Linked DNA regions of Homo sapiens. The protein of the gene in region 3 interacts with the protein of the main gene of each other region in a pairwise test. Each region holds a gene or a part of one and is shown on either strand. Other genes may lie near its edges.

Region 1 (3,500 bases), on a different chromosome or scaffold from region 3:
AGCAAAATCAAAAGAATTTACTACTCTCTTTCTGAAAATGCCAGGCACATAGAGCATCTTACTGGGGCTTCAGTTTCAGACCTAAATAACATAAGCTTATTATTAAGCAGAAATGAATGAAAGCTAAGATGAAACTCAATAAGATACTGACCGATTTTTCCAAAAGGATCATCCTTGAAAGGATCACCTGTGATAAAATAAACACAAAGAAATCCAAATAACAATATTTACTGTGGTGACACCACTACTTAAAGAGTAACTTTCAAACAAAAGCAAAGCAAAGTTTATTTCAATAACTTCACTTCACAGTAGATAAAATAAGGAATGTCATTGACCTTATGAAATATACAGCCAACTATACTTACCTTGATCACAAGTTGAGGTTACGGATGGAGGGGAAGACATTACAGCAAAAATTTTACTAACAAAATCTCTACTCTCCACAAGAGTACTGGGAGGGTATTATCATCACCAGTTCAGAAATAAAGGTACTGAGCTTTACTGAAGCAAAAAAAAAAAAATTCTTACAGGATTGAAGAGTCCAGAAATAAATCCTTACCTTTATGGTCATTTGATTTTTGACAAGCGTATCAAGAACACAAAATGGAGAAAGGACAGTCTTTTCAACAAATGGTGTTAGGACAACTGGATATCCACTTGCAAAAGAATGAAGCTCGACCTCTATCTCACATCATATACAAAAATAAACTCAAAATGGATCAAAGATCTAACTGTAACAGCAAAACTATAAAACTCTTAGACAAAGACAGCATTAAATCTTTGCGACTTAGGTAATAGTTTCTTAGATGACACCAAAAGCACAAGTGACAGAAGAAAAAATAGATAACTGGACTTCACCAAAATTGAATAAACACTTTTCCAAAGAAGATACACAAATGGCTAATAAGCATCTAGAAAGATGTTCAACATTAGTCAGTAGGAAAATACAAAGCAGGCCAGGCGCAGTGGCTCACACCTGTAATCCCAGCACTTTAGAAGGCCGAGGCAGGCGGATCACCTTACATCAGGAGTTCAAGACCAGCCTGGTCAAAATGGTGAAACCCAGTCTCTACTAAAAATACAAAAATTAGGCCAGACGCGGTGGCTCACGCCTGTAATCCCAGCACTTTGGGAGGCCAACGTGGGCGGATCACGAGGTCAAGAGATGGAGACCATCCTGGCCAACATGGTGAAACCCCGCCTCTACTAAAAACACAAAAGTTAGCTGGGTGTGGTGGCAGGCACCTGCAATCCCAACTACTCAGGAGGCTGAGGCAGGAGATTAGCTTGAATCCGGGAGGCAGAAGTTGCAGTGAGCCGAGATTGTGCCACTGCACTCCAGCCTGGCGACAGAGCGAGACTCCATTTCTAAATAAATTAATTACATAAATAAATAAATACACACATACATACATACATACATACATAAAATTAGCTGGGTGTGGTGGTGGGCGCCTGTAGTCTCAGCTACTCAAGAGGCTGAGACAGGAGAATCGCTTGAACCCAGGAGGCGGAGGTTGCAGTGAGCCGAGATCGTGCCACTGCACTCCAGCCTGGGCGACAGACTGAGTTGGTAGGCTATTGAAACTGAAGCCTTGAATCCTTAGTTTATATATTAAAAAGTCTTTTTTTTGGGTAAATCTATAATATAAAAAAAAGAGTACTTACTGCCAACAAAAGGATCAGACTGGAAAAAATCCAAGTTTGTATCTGCAACTGGACCTGTCAGCGAACTTGAGTCTACATTAAATGGATCTTCCTAAAAATAATTTTAAATTAAAATTATTTTTTAGAAACCAAAGTTTTAAAAGGTAACATTTTAAAATAAAATAACACACATTCAGGTCATACACATGCTTTGAAAAATCAACTGATGGGCCAGGCACGGTGGCTCACACCTGTAATCCCAGCACTTTGGGAGGCTGACGTGGGCAGATCACAAGGTCAAGAGATAGAGACCATCCTGGCCAAAATGGTGAAACCCCGTCTCTACCAAAAACACAAAAATTAGCTGGGCATGTGCAGCTACTCAGGAGGCTGAGGCAGGAGAATTGCTTGAACCTGGGAGGTGGAGGTTGCAGTGAGCCAAGATCACACTACTGCACTCAAGGCTGGGTGACAGAGTGAGACTTGGTCTTGAAAACAAAAGGAAAATCAACTGATGGTAATGTAACAAATATCTCTCTAGTCATAAAGCACCTTTAACACATTTTTCTCTTTCCTTCACCTTAACATATTTTTCTCTTTCCTTCACCTAAAATAGTGTATAATTCATCTGAGGAAAACAGTGATAAGGACATTTTTTTAAAATATCATTTAATTTTTAGAGATTAGGTCCCTCTATGTTGCCTAGTGCCTCCAACTCAGGCTCAAGCAATCCACCTACTTCACCTCCTGAGTAGCTGGGACTACAGGCACTTGCCACCACATCCAGCTATTAAGAACATTTATTTATTTTATATGTATAAATTCAAGGGGCACAAGTGGAATTTTGTTACATGGCTATATTGCCTAAAGGTGAAGTCGGGGCTTTTGATGTATCTATCATCTGAATAATGTATATTGTACCCATTAAGTAATGTCTGATAATTCACCTCCTCCTGTCCTTCCACCCTTACAAGTCCCCAATGTAAATATAAAATCATTTTTTACCTCTTTTGAATGTCTATTATTGTCGAGTTCAGAACAAACTTTTTCAGTAACAGCTGTAGTCACCTCATTTTCATCAGTCACACCAGAAGGCAGTAGTTCAGGACTACTTCTTGCCTACAAAATATTAATGCAAGTAGATTAACAATATACTTTTTGACATGGCAGAGAAAACTGACTAAAGATAACCAAAAACTATTTAAAAATAAAAAAAGACAAGCAGAATGTATTCATCAAATAACTTCTCCTTCTATAATCTTTTTTAGGGAAATGGTGTCATCAAGCATCAAAGTCACTCATGTCAGAAACCTTCAGGTCATCTTTAATCCTCAGAATATGACTCCAAGTCTTGCTCAGTCTACCTCTTACCTCTTTTTCAAATCCTTGCCTTCTTCTCCATCCTCACTGTCACTATCAATCACTTATAGTACTATCATCTTTGGTTCCAATTACTATAGCAGTCTTCCTTCCAACTGCTTTCCTGCCTCCAATACATGTATTTCCAATCTCTTCTCCTTATTGTAGCCAAACTAATAGCTCTAAAATGTGGATGTGATCGTGACCCTTCTGGTTAAAAGTCCTTCAATGGCTTCCCATTGTCTTCTTCATTTAGACGAGTGGGTGAAAGACTTAAGAAGTAGTAGGGGCAGGCCGGATGCAGTGGCTCACACCTGTAATCCCAGCACTTTGGGAGGCCGAGGCAGGCAGATCACAAGGTCAGGAGATCGAGACCTTCCTGGCTAACACGGTGAAACCCCGTCTCTACTAAAAATGCAAAAAATTAGCCAGGTGTGGTGGCACACGCCTGTAGTCCCAGCTACTCGGGAGGCTGAGGCAGGAGAATAGCTTAA
Region 2 (2,991 bases), on a different chromosome or scaffold from region 3:
GAAAGGATGAACTGGATGACGTATGGACAGAAAAACCACTGTTGGTTAAACATTCCCCTGCTTGAACACCCAGACGAGAACCCGTTTCTTAAGAGAACTACAGCCTTATCTATTACTGTTTGCTAAGTTCTCTATGATTGTTTTCTCCATGTGAGAAATAACTTTATAGGTTAGAAAACTAAGAGCCCAACAGCTTAAGAAAAGAAAAGAACCAACCAACCAACCCAGAAAAAGCAAGCTCTCTTTGCCCTTTGATGGACTCTATCAAGTCTTGAGTGCCCTTCCTAGTTCCTGGGAATATACTAACAGATAACAGCAGGTTAGAGCCTGGAGAGGTTTCAAAGTCATCATTTCAAGAGAAAACTGAGGCTTTAACTGGTTTGCATAGGGTGACAAGGCTGGTTAATGGTGAACAGAGACCATGTTAATAACTGAGTCTGCTCCAGTATGCCTCTCCCTACTTATGGCAACCCCAAATCCTGTATTTCTCAAGGAGATTTTGATTTCAAGCATTCTACCCTTTCCACTGTCAAGAGTATTTGCATCTGACAGTTGCCCCACCCCAACTTGGGGCTTAGCCGGAGTTATGGTCACGCCAACTGCATATCATTGAGCATCTGAGTTGACCATCTGTCTCTGCTAAGAGCTGACTCTTCCATTTCCTTTTTAAGACCTGACTTGAGAGAGTCAATACCTCAGGCATTGTAGAAATTGCGGTCATTCTAAAATATAAAAGTGTAAAGTTTATATTAATATTTAATTCATACAATTGGAAAGAACTTTAAACTGCAATTAGGTGTCAGTACCCATCTGCTTCCAGCAGGCTCACACGCTCTTCGATCCCTCGGAGGCCGCAGAGGGCCACGATCACCTTCGAATGTGCTCCTTAACAATGTGCCCACAGTCTCTCAGGAGGGAGCTCCAGATGGTGAAGGAAACTCTGCAGGCCATGATCCTGCAGCTCCAGCCAGCAAAGGAGGCGGGAGAAAGAGAAGCTGCAGCTTCCTGCATGACAGCTGGTGTCCACGAAGCACAAGCCTGAGGAGTGACGGGATGGGGGAGGGAGGTGGGCCACCATGTTTGGACCCGGGGGGCTGCTCTTCCCTCCCCCGCCATAGCTAAGATGCCTGAATCAATTACGGAGATACAGAGCCTTGAGGTCTTTCAGTGGAAAGGTGGTTCATGTTCATTCTCATCAGTGTGAAACTGAGGAGTCTGCAATTTGGAATATGGAGAGAGAGACTGATTTGCTGAATTTCCTTCTAAATGTCACTCAAAAATTTCTTTTCCATGTCATTCTTGGGAATGTCTTCCACAGGATTTGAGAATAGTTTCATCTCAGCCCCCATTAGAGAGAAGTTGGGGTGAATTCTGGAAAAATGTCTCTTTTTCCTGTGCCATTTGCCTTCTGCTGCAACGAAAATATTTCCTGATTCAAGATTCTATAAAAAGGAAACCAAGCATAAGACTCTGTCATCATACCTGTTACACGTTCCTACAGGTGCACAATCTAAGAGAGCTAATTAACCTCAGAGTCTGGAGTTAACAGCTTTTCACCTTACTTCTCCTGTGATCTAATATTATCTTAGAAAAATTAATATGCAATTTCCAAAAGATATTTTGGTAAGACAACAACCTCCCAGTGATATGCCACCTTTCAATTTTCCTTTTGTGGCAATGATTGCATCTGAAGAAAGGATCCCTGAGAGTCTCTGTTTCATCAGGACATTCTGAAATTTACCCACAGTGAGGCTGTGGATGGATCAGGGGACCTGTATAAAATGTTTGAGCCTGTTCCATTTTCCCGTGGAACCTGTTTCACTCAATGCCAGGCAGTGCAGCATTTAGGAAAGCAGTGCAGTACTCAGTAAGGCAGTGCAGTACTCAGTAACACAATACAGTACTCAGGCAGTGCAGTACTCAGTAAGACAGTGCAGTGCTCAGTAAGGCAGTGCAATACTCAGTAACAGTGTAGTACTCAGTAACAGTGAAGTACTCAGTAATACAGTACAGTATTCAGTAAGGCAGTGAAGTACTCAGTAATACAATACAGTACTCAGTTAGGCAGTGCAGTACTCAGGAATGCAGCACAGTACTCAGGCAGTGCAATACTCAGTGCGGTACTCAGTAACACAGTGCAGTACTCAGTAACAGTGCAGTACTCAGTAACAGTGCAGTACTCAGTAAGGCAGTGCAGTACTCAGTAACACAGTGCAGTACTCAGTAATACAGTACAGTACTCAGTAAGGCAGTATGGTACTCAGTAAAGCAATGCAATGCTCAGTAACACAGTGCAGTGCTCAATAAGGCAGTGCAGTGCTCAGTAAGGCAGTGAATTGCTTAGTAACACAGTGTAGTGCTCAGTAGGACAGCATAGTACTCAGTAACACAGGGCAGCTAGTACTCAGTACTATAAGTACTGAGTACTTATATAGGCAATGTAGTACTCAGTAAATCAGTGCAGTACTCAGTAATGCAAGGGCATTTCAGGCTCCTGCTGGGCTGCTTCTTTGGCCCAGCTGGGACTCCTATTGAGACAGCTGCAAAACAGGCTGATTTCAATTAGGCAGCACTTCCCAAAGTGCACTGAGGAAGGTGGCCCCAAGAGAAGCTCTCTAAACAAAGGAGTACCCTCTCTGGTCAAGTACCTTTGGTAAATACACCATACCATAATATCTGCTTGGAGAACCACAATGCACATTAGCATATTAGTCTGAGAGAGAACTTATAGTAAGGAAACTCACTTGATTTTATCTAACCTCAAACTTTCCAAGTTTAATGGATCGTGAATTTTTTTCATGTAACTCCTATTCATATCCCATAGATCTAGTATTGTACAGCACTGCATTCTCTGAGGAAGTCCCAGTCCAAACTCTGATTTACATCACTTTAGAAACCACACTCACACTTTTGCAGAGTGTTGAGCTTAATAACTACCTGCCACAGATTGGTAAATTTAATCCAGTGGTTGTTCTGTTTGTGCTTCTGTTC
Region 3 (3,500 bases):
CAAGATATCAGATGTCGATTGACCACCCAAAGGCAAGAAATTGAGAGCACAAACAAATCTAGAGAGTTGAGAATTGCCGAAATCACCCATCTACAGCAACAATTACAGGTGAGGAAATATGCCTCTTAAAAGCTATTATATTAAACTGGCATCCTTTTCTCTAATTCATTTCATTTACTTACTTATTCAGTAAACATTAAGCAACTGTCTTGTACTAGGCACTGGGAAGCAAAAATGAAGTAGACAGGGTCCTTGTGTGAAAAGTAGCCTGTCAAGGAGACAAACTCAGCAAATATTTACTGAGCACTGCTTCGGGCCAGGTGCTTTTGCAGTTTCTGAGGCTACAGCAGGGACAGACACTCTGTCTTCTGGGAGCTTACCCTCTGTTTGCAGGAGGAACAGAGACTAACAAAATAAAGTGTGTACTGTATTAGAAGATGAAAAGTGCTATGGAGAGTGAGTAGGGAAGGGAATAGAGAGTCCTAGGGATAGGAAATGTTGTGATTTTAACTAAGGTAGCCAAGACAGGTCTTTCTGGATGGTGACATTTGAGCAGAGACTTGAAATTAATGACAGGCTAAGCCATGTGGGTATCTGGCAGAGCAAGATCTAGGCAGGGAAATAGTGCCAAAGTCCTGAGGTCGTAGCAGGACTCTGAGATGCCAGTTACAGCAAGGAGACTACTGGGTAGAGCAGGTGGGAGCTGGATCACACAGAACCTGTAGTCCACCAACAGGACTTTGGCTTTACTGTGGTAATTACAATAAATAAGTACACTTAAGTATTTTAGGGGGTCATATGAGAGCTATATGTATACTAAATAGTTGGAGACATACAGAGCACTTTTAGTAGTTCTGTCTTCATTTTAAAGCCTATCCAAAGTTGTTATAATATCACCTGGTTTGGTATCAAGTGCTGAACTACAGGGGCATCAAATTCATGTAAATATTGCCTGTGGATGATCATATTTGCCTGTGATTCCTTTATGTTAGGCTTTTTCTCAGCATGATGTTTTTGAGATGTGTCCATGTTACTGAGTGAATGACTCTTTTGTTTCTTTTCATCACTGAGTAGTGTTTCCTTATGTGTCCATTCACCTACTGGTTGATATTCAGGTTCTTTCCAGTGTGGAACTTTTATGAATAAAACTGCAGTGAGCATTTATGTACAAGTCTTTATGTGGAAATGGTTTATTTCTCTTGGGTAAACTTTTAGGAATGGAACTACTGTGTCATGTAAGTGTATATTTAACCCCATAAGAAACTGTCAGGCTGGGCACAGTGGGTCACACCTGTAAACCCAATACTTTGAGAGGGCAAGGTAAGAGGATTGCTTGAGCTCAGGAGTTTGAGACCAGCCTGGGAAACATAGCAAGACCCCATCTCTAAAAAAAAAAAAAAAAAACTTAAAAATTAGCTGGCATGGGGGCGTTCACCTGTAGTACCTGCCTGAGGCAGGAAGACCACTTGAGCCCACGATATCGAGGCTGCAGTGAGCTATGATTGAGCCACTGACTGCCTGGGCCACAGAATGAGACCCTGTTCAAAAAAAAAAAAAAAAAGAGAGAGAAAAGAGAAAGGAAAGAAAGAGAACTGACAAACTGCAAAGAGTTTGTACCATTTTACATTCTGATCATTTAATTTGTATTTCCCTGAAGGCTAATGATGTTGGGAATCATCTTACATGTTTATTGGCGAGTATTTTTTACTGTGCATCTTCGTTGAAGTGTCTGAACAAATCTTTTGCCCATTTTTTATTGGGCTGTTTGTCTTACTATTTACTTGTAAAAGTTCTTTTTATATTCTTAACAAGTCCTTTGTCAGATACGTGTTTTGCAAATATTTTCTCCCAATCTGGCTTGGGTTTAATTTTTGTTAGTGGTATTTTTTAAAGGGCAGAAGTTTTAAATTTTGATGAAGTTCAGTTTACCGTTTTTTTTCTTTTGGTGTTCATGCTTTTTATGTTCTATCTGAGAAATCTTTGACTACCCCATGACTGCAAATATTTTATTTTCTTCTAGAAGTTTTTGGGGCTTAAAAAAATAATTTTTACAAGTTTTTATAAATTGAAAAAAACTTAAAATTTTAAGTTTCATAGTTGTATCTTATATGTTTAGGTCTATGAGCTATTTCAAGTTGATTTTTGCAGATAGTATAAGGTAAAGGTTGAGGTTTATATTTTTACATACTGATACACAGTTGTTATAGCACCATTTATTAAAAACACTGGCTTTTTTCCCATTGAGTTACCTTGGTAGCTTGTTGAAAATCAGTTGAACATATTTGTAATGGTCTATTCTGGACTCTATTCTGTTCTTTTGATCTGTCTGTCCTTTACCAGTACCTCACCCTGTTGATACCTAATTTTTGAAGTCAAGTGATACGAATTCTCTGTTATTGTTCTTTTTAGAATTGTTTTTGGTTATTCCAGGTCCTTAACATTTCCATGTACATTTTAGAATCAGCTTATCAGTTTTTACAAAAATGCTTGGAATTTTGTTGGAATTCCATTGAATTTATAAATCAATTTGGGAAGATTTGACATCTCAGCAATAGTAAATCTATGGCATAAATCTCTATTTTGGTAGTTATAAATTTCTCTCAGCAATGTTTTGTAGTTTGCAGTGTCCAAGTCTTGTAGATACTTTGTAAAGTTTATCCCTAAGTATTTTGTGGCTTTTGATGCTATTGTATATTGCATATTTTTATTTTAGTTTCCAGTTGTTTGGTGCCAGTATATGGAAATAGAATTTATTTTTGTATATTGACCTTATATCTGTGATTGCTTAACTAACTTCCTTTGTGTGTCTTACTTTGTTGACCAGAACCTCCCATACTATATTGGATAGAAGTGGGAAGAGCCTTGTTCCCTCTCGATGAAGGAAAGCTCTCTCACCATAGAGTATAGTGTTAACCAGGGTTCTTGTAAACACCTTTTATCAGGTTGATGGACTTCTCCTTTTGCTGAGGGTTTTTATGATGAATGGGTGTTGAAATAGATCATATGTTTTTTCCCCGCATCTATTGAGATAAGTATGTGTTTTTTCTTTCTTATTTTGTTAATATGATGAAGTACATGGTTGCCATTTGAATGTTAAATCAGCCTTCCATTCTTGGGATAAACCACTCTTGGTCATGGTATATTACCCTTTATTAAAATATTTCACTACATTCCATTTCCCATTATTTTATTAAGGATCTTTTTAAATCTGTTGAATTCAATTCAACAGAGATATTGGTTTTTAGTGTTCTTCTAATATTCTTGTCTAGTTTTGATATCAGGGTAATGCTGGCCTCAGAAAATGAGTTGGAAAATATTCCTTCCTCCTCTATTTTCTAAAAGTGTTTGTGTTGAAATAGCATTTCTTCTTTAAATTTTGGTGGCATTCACCAGTGAAGGCCTCTGGGCCTGGAGCTTTCTTGAAGACTTAATTATAAAATTCATTATGCAGATATAGGGCTATTCTGATTTTCTTCTTCTCCTTGAATCTGTTTTGATTA
Region 4 (3,500 bases), on a different chromosome or scaffold from region 3:
TTCCATATTCTTAGCACCACTGAATATTTAATAAGTTTCCACGGGGTACATGATATTCTGCCCACCTGGTTGACGGTTGCAGCACAAACACTTTTCATCTCATCTGTCCTCAGGTAGAGAATTATAGATAGTTGCTCAGAATAACAGTGAATCAAAAGCAATGCCAAAAACACAAGTTGGTGCCAGCTAAACATTCTGTAAAGTAGATACTACTAACTTTAGACAATATTTATTTTTCTATATTTTTGAGGAAGGGTCTGTCTTTGTCACTCAGGCTATAATGCAGTGGTGCAATCATAGCTCACTACAGCCTTAAACTCCTGGGCTCAAGGGATTCTCCCACCTCGGCCTCCCAAGTACCTGGAATTACAGGCATGCACCACCACGTCCAACAAAATTTTTTTTTTTTTTTTTGAGACAAGAGTCTCGCTCCGTCACCCAGGCTGGAATGCAGTGGCACGACCTCGGCTCACTGCAAGCTCCGCCTCCTGGGTTCACACCATTCTCCTGCCTCGGCCTCCTGAGTAGCTGGGACGATAGGCGCCTGCCACCACGCCCGGCTAATTTTTTGTATTTTTAGTAGAGACGGGGATTCACCGCGTTAGCCAGGATGGTCCTGATTTCCTGACTTCGTGATCCACCCACCTCGGCCTCCCAAAGTGCTGGGATTACAGGCATGAGCCACTGCACCCGGCCCCACCGAATTTTTTAAAAAAATTTTTGTAGAGACAGGGTCTCAGTTTGTTGCCCAGGCTGGTCTCAAACTCTTGGCTTCAAGTGATCCTTCTGCCTCAGCCTCCCAAAGTGCTAGGATTATAGGCATATGAGCCAACATGCCTAGCCAACTAATTTCTTTATGTAATTTTTAAAAAGGGGGCTGGGTGTGATGGCTCATGCCTGTAATCCCAGCACTTTGGGAGGTCAAGGCAGGTGCATCACCTGAGTCAAGAGTTTGAGACCAGCCTGGCCAACATGGTGCAACGTCGTCTCTACTAAAAATACAAAAATTAGCCGGGCATGGTAGTGGGCACCTGTAATCCCAGTTACTAAGGAGGCTGAGGCAGGAGGAGAATCGCTTGAACCCAGAAGGTAGAGGTTCCAGTGAGCCGAGATCATGCCACTGCACTCCAGACTGGGCGACAGAGTGACACTCCATCTCAAAAAAAAATAAAAAATAAATAAAAGGTACCATATGGTGTTACTTAGGGGAAATAAAAGGCAGGGTTGAATCTTCTAGTACTGGTGGTGATGCTCTGTCAGAAGTCATGGTTAAAGCATCTGCACTTCCACACCCACACCGACGCCCACCCTTATGCCTAGGTTGAAAGATTTCTAATGGTAGTTACTACCATAAAAACCTTAAAAAATTATGACTTGCTTCATCCTGTGGATTTAATACTAATCTTGAAGGATAATAAACAGAAGCCAAGGCTACCTGTAAAATAAAATGAACCAAACAAAATGTCAAAGCAGAGAAGTGAACAGGTAATTTACAAATGAGAGACAGCATCTATGTCCAGCCAAATTCTAATTCTCCATTTAAAGTTCACTAAGAAAATATTCAGGCCAAGCACAGTAATTCACTGAGGAAGGCCAAGGTGGGAGGATTGCTTGAGGCCAGGAATTCATGACCAACCTGGGCAACATAGCAAGACCCCATCTCCATAAAAAATAAGGCTGGGTGCGGTGGCTCACACATGTAATCCCAACACTTTGGGAGGCCATGTCAGGTGGATCACGAGGTCAGGAGATCAAGACCATCCTGGCTAACACGGTGAAGCCCCGTCTCTACTAAAAAATACAAAAAATTAGCCAGGCGTGGTGGCAGGCGCCTGTAGTCCCAGCTACTCAAAAGGCTGAGGCAGGACAATGGCATGAACCTGGAAGGCGGAGCTTGCAGTGAGCTGAGATCACGCCACTGCACTCCAGCCTGGGCGACAAGGCAAGACTCTGTCTCAAAAAAAAAAAAAAAATTAGCGGGATGTGGTGGCATGTGCCTGCAGTCCTAGATGCTCAGGAGGCTGAGGTAGGAGTGCTTGAACCCAGGAGTTCAAAGTTACAGTGAGCTATGACTGCACCACTGCACTCCAGCTTGGCCACAGAGCAAGATCCTATCTGTAAAAAATAAATAAATAGATAGATAAATAATTTTTAAAAGGGAATATTCAAAGGTTATCCACTGATTAACTCTTAGTGTTATGCACCTTTCAGTAAACATTGCATTAGACCAAAAAGGTAGCACTTTAAAGAAAGTGGCTATTTTCCTCCATCTTCCTGGCAACAATATTTAATGACCCATCCAATATATTCAATTAGTACCCAATTCAAATGAGCTTTAGTTATTACTGGAGTCAAACATATCACTTGGGACTTGACCTTCTTCATTATATAAGCAAAGTTTAAAATGTCAATAAGGAAAAGGTCCCAAAACTTTAAGGTGTTAAGCTATGTTCTGGCTGCTAAACATTTACAACATAACCAAGTTGGCTAAAAATAATCTTGCCCTAGAAATTCCCCTATAGAGAAATGCATGATAATAATTAGGTAATAAAGATCATTTTCATTCAGTTTCTAGTCCCACACCACCAGAAAATACCACAAATATTGATCTGAAGAAAATAATCTTAAATATATATAAATTTACGGCCAAACCTCCTGAAGAAAATGATGAAAGTTTTCATCATGGGCAATATGGGCAAATATGAGCATAAGTACAATACAAAGATTTGCTTTAAGATCCCTGCATTTTAGTACTTGGTTCTCACCTCAAAAACACCTAGGATATGAAATATACAATCTGTGAGACACACAAAGTCATGTTTCCCATAGCTACCCCATAACCCAGTATTCCAAAGACAAGGTTCATATTAAACACGCTTTAACAAGGGACTCATTTTAAATACTGCTCTCTTTGTAAAAGCAGAAGCTTATTACCATTGGATTTGAATCTGCTATGAGATCCCGTAGAGAATCCAGAAATCCCTGATCTTCCACCATTTGGGCATTGATATCATGGAGTTTTGCCACGCAGACTGCTGCTGTTTTCCGAACATAGGGATCCTCATCCTTCAAGCACTTGCGGAGCGGCTCACAGAGATATTCTGTAATTTTGTCTACCCGGATGCACCCCATGGTTCTGACTGCCAAGGCTCGAATCAAAGGATTAGGATCTTCACAGTCCTGCAGAAAACAATCACCAACAACTGTAGGTATACATGGTGGCTAAAAGTAAACAGTCCAGTTTATGTAAGCTGCAAAAGAATTACCTCATTAATTTAAGCTTCCAGATACATTCTACATGAGCTCCAATCTTCCATGCTATTCCTTTCCTAAGTACAAATCTTAGCTGCCCTATTTAAGAGTTTAGGTGAAGAAGTCATTTAACTGTTTTAAATACAAAATGAGAAACAGCTCAGCAGGATTCACTCTAGTGCCAGGCAGAGGTTTAGGGAGTTCGTACCATCCCACAGCCATTAGGATCTACCCTAAAAACAGGAAAA

The links. Proteins that work in one complex are often made in the same cells at the same time.
Region 1: the proteins of ITSN1 (region 3) and EPS15 interact in binary tests that used the Homo sapiens proteins (3 or more experiments, as listed by UniProt).
Region 2: the proteins of ITSN1 (region 3) and DISC1 interact in binary tests that used the Homo sapiens proteins (3 or more experiments, as listed by UniProt).
Region 4: the proteins of ITSN1 (region 3) and AP2B1 interact in binary tests that used the Homo sapiens proteins (3 or more experiments, as listed by UniProt).

The regions. Positions count from the first base shown.
Region 1 is NC_000001.11:51,400,767-51,404,266, forward strand, and holds part of EPS15 (epidermal growth factor receptor substrate 15), read right to left. Parts: intron 2,767-3,500; coding exon 2,653-2,766; intron 1,760-2,652; coding exon 1,669-1,759; intron 188-1,668; coding exon 152-187; intron 1-151. UniProt on the Homo sapiens protein: Involved in cell growth regulation. May be involved in the regulation of mitogenic signals and control of cell proliferation. Involved in the internalization of ligand-inducible receptors of the receptor tyrosine kinase (RTK) type, in particular EGFR.
Region 2 is NC_000001.11:232,035,790-232,038,780, forward strand, and holds part of DISC1 (disrupted in schizophrenia 1 protein), read left to right. Parts: intron 1-902; coding exon 903-1,042; 3' UTR 1,043-2,991. UniProt on the Homo sapiens protein: Involved in the regulation of multiple aspects of embryonic and adult neurogenesis. Required for neural progenitor proliferation in the ventrical/subventrical zone during embryonic brain development and in the adult dentate gyrus of the hippocampus.
Region 3 is NC_000021.9:33,775,001-33,778,500, forward strand, and holds part of ITSN1 (intersectin-1), read left to right. Parts: coding exon 1-108; intron 109-3,500. UniProt on the Homo sapiens protein: Adapter protein that provides a link between the endocytic membrane traffic and the actin assembly machinery. Acts as a guanine nucleotide exchange factor (GEF) for CDC42, and thereby stimulates actin nucleation mediated by WASL and the ARP2/3 complex.
Region 4 is NC_000017.11:35,607,822-35,611,321, reverse strand, and holds part of AP2B1 (AP-2 complex subunit beta), read right to left. Parts: intron 3,181-3,500; coding exon 2,935-3,180; intron 1-2,934. UniProt on the Homo sapiens protein: Component of the adaptor protein complex 2 (AP-2). Adaptor protein complexes function in protein transport via transport vesicles in different membrane traffic pathways.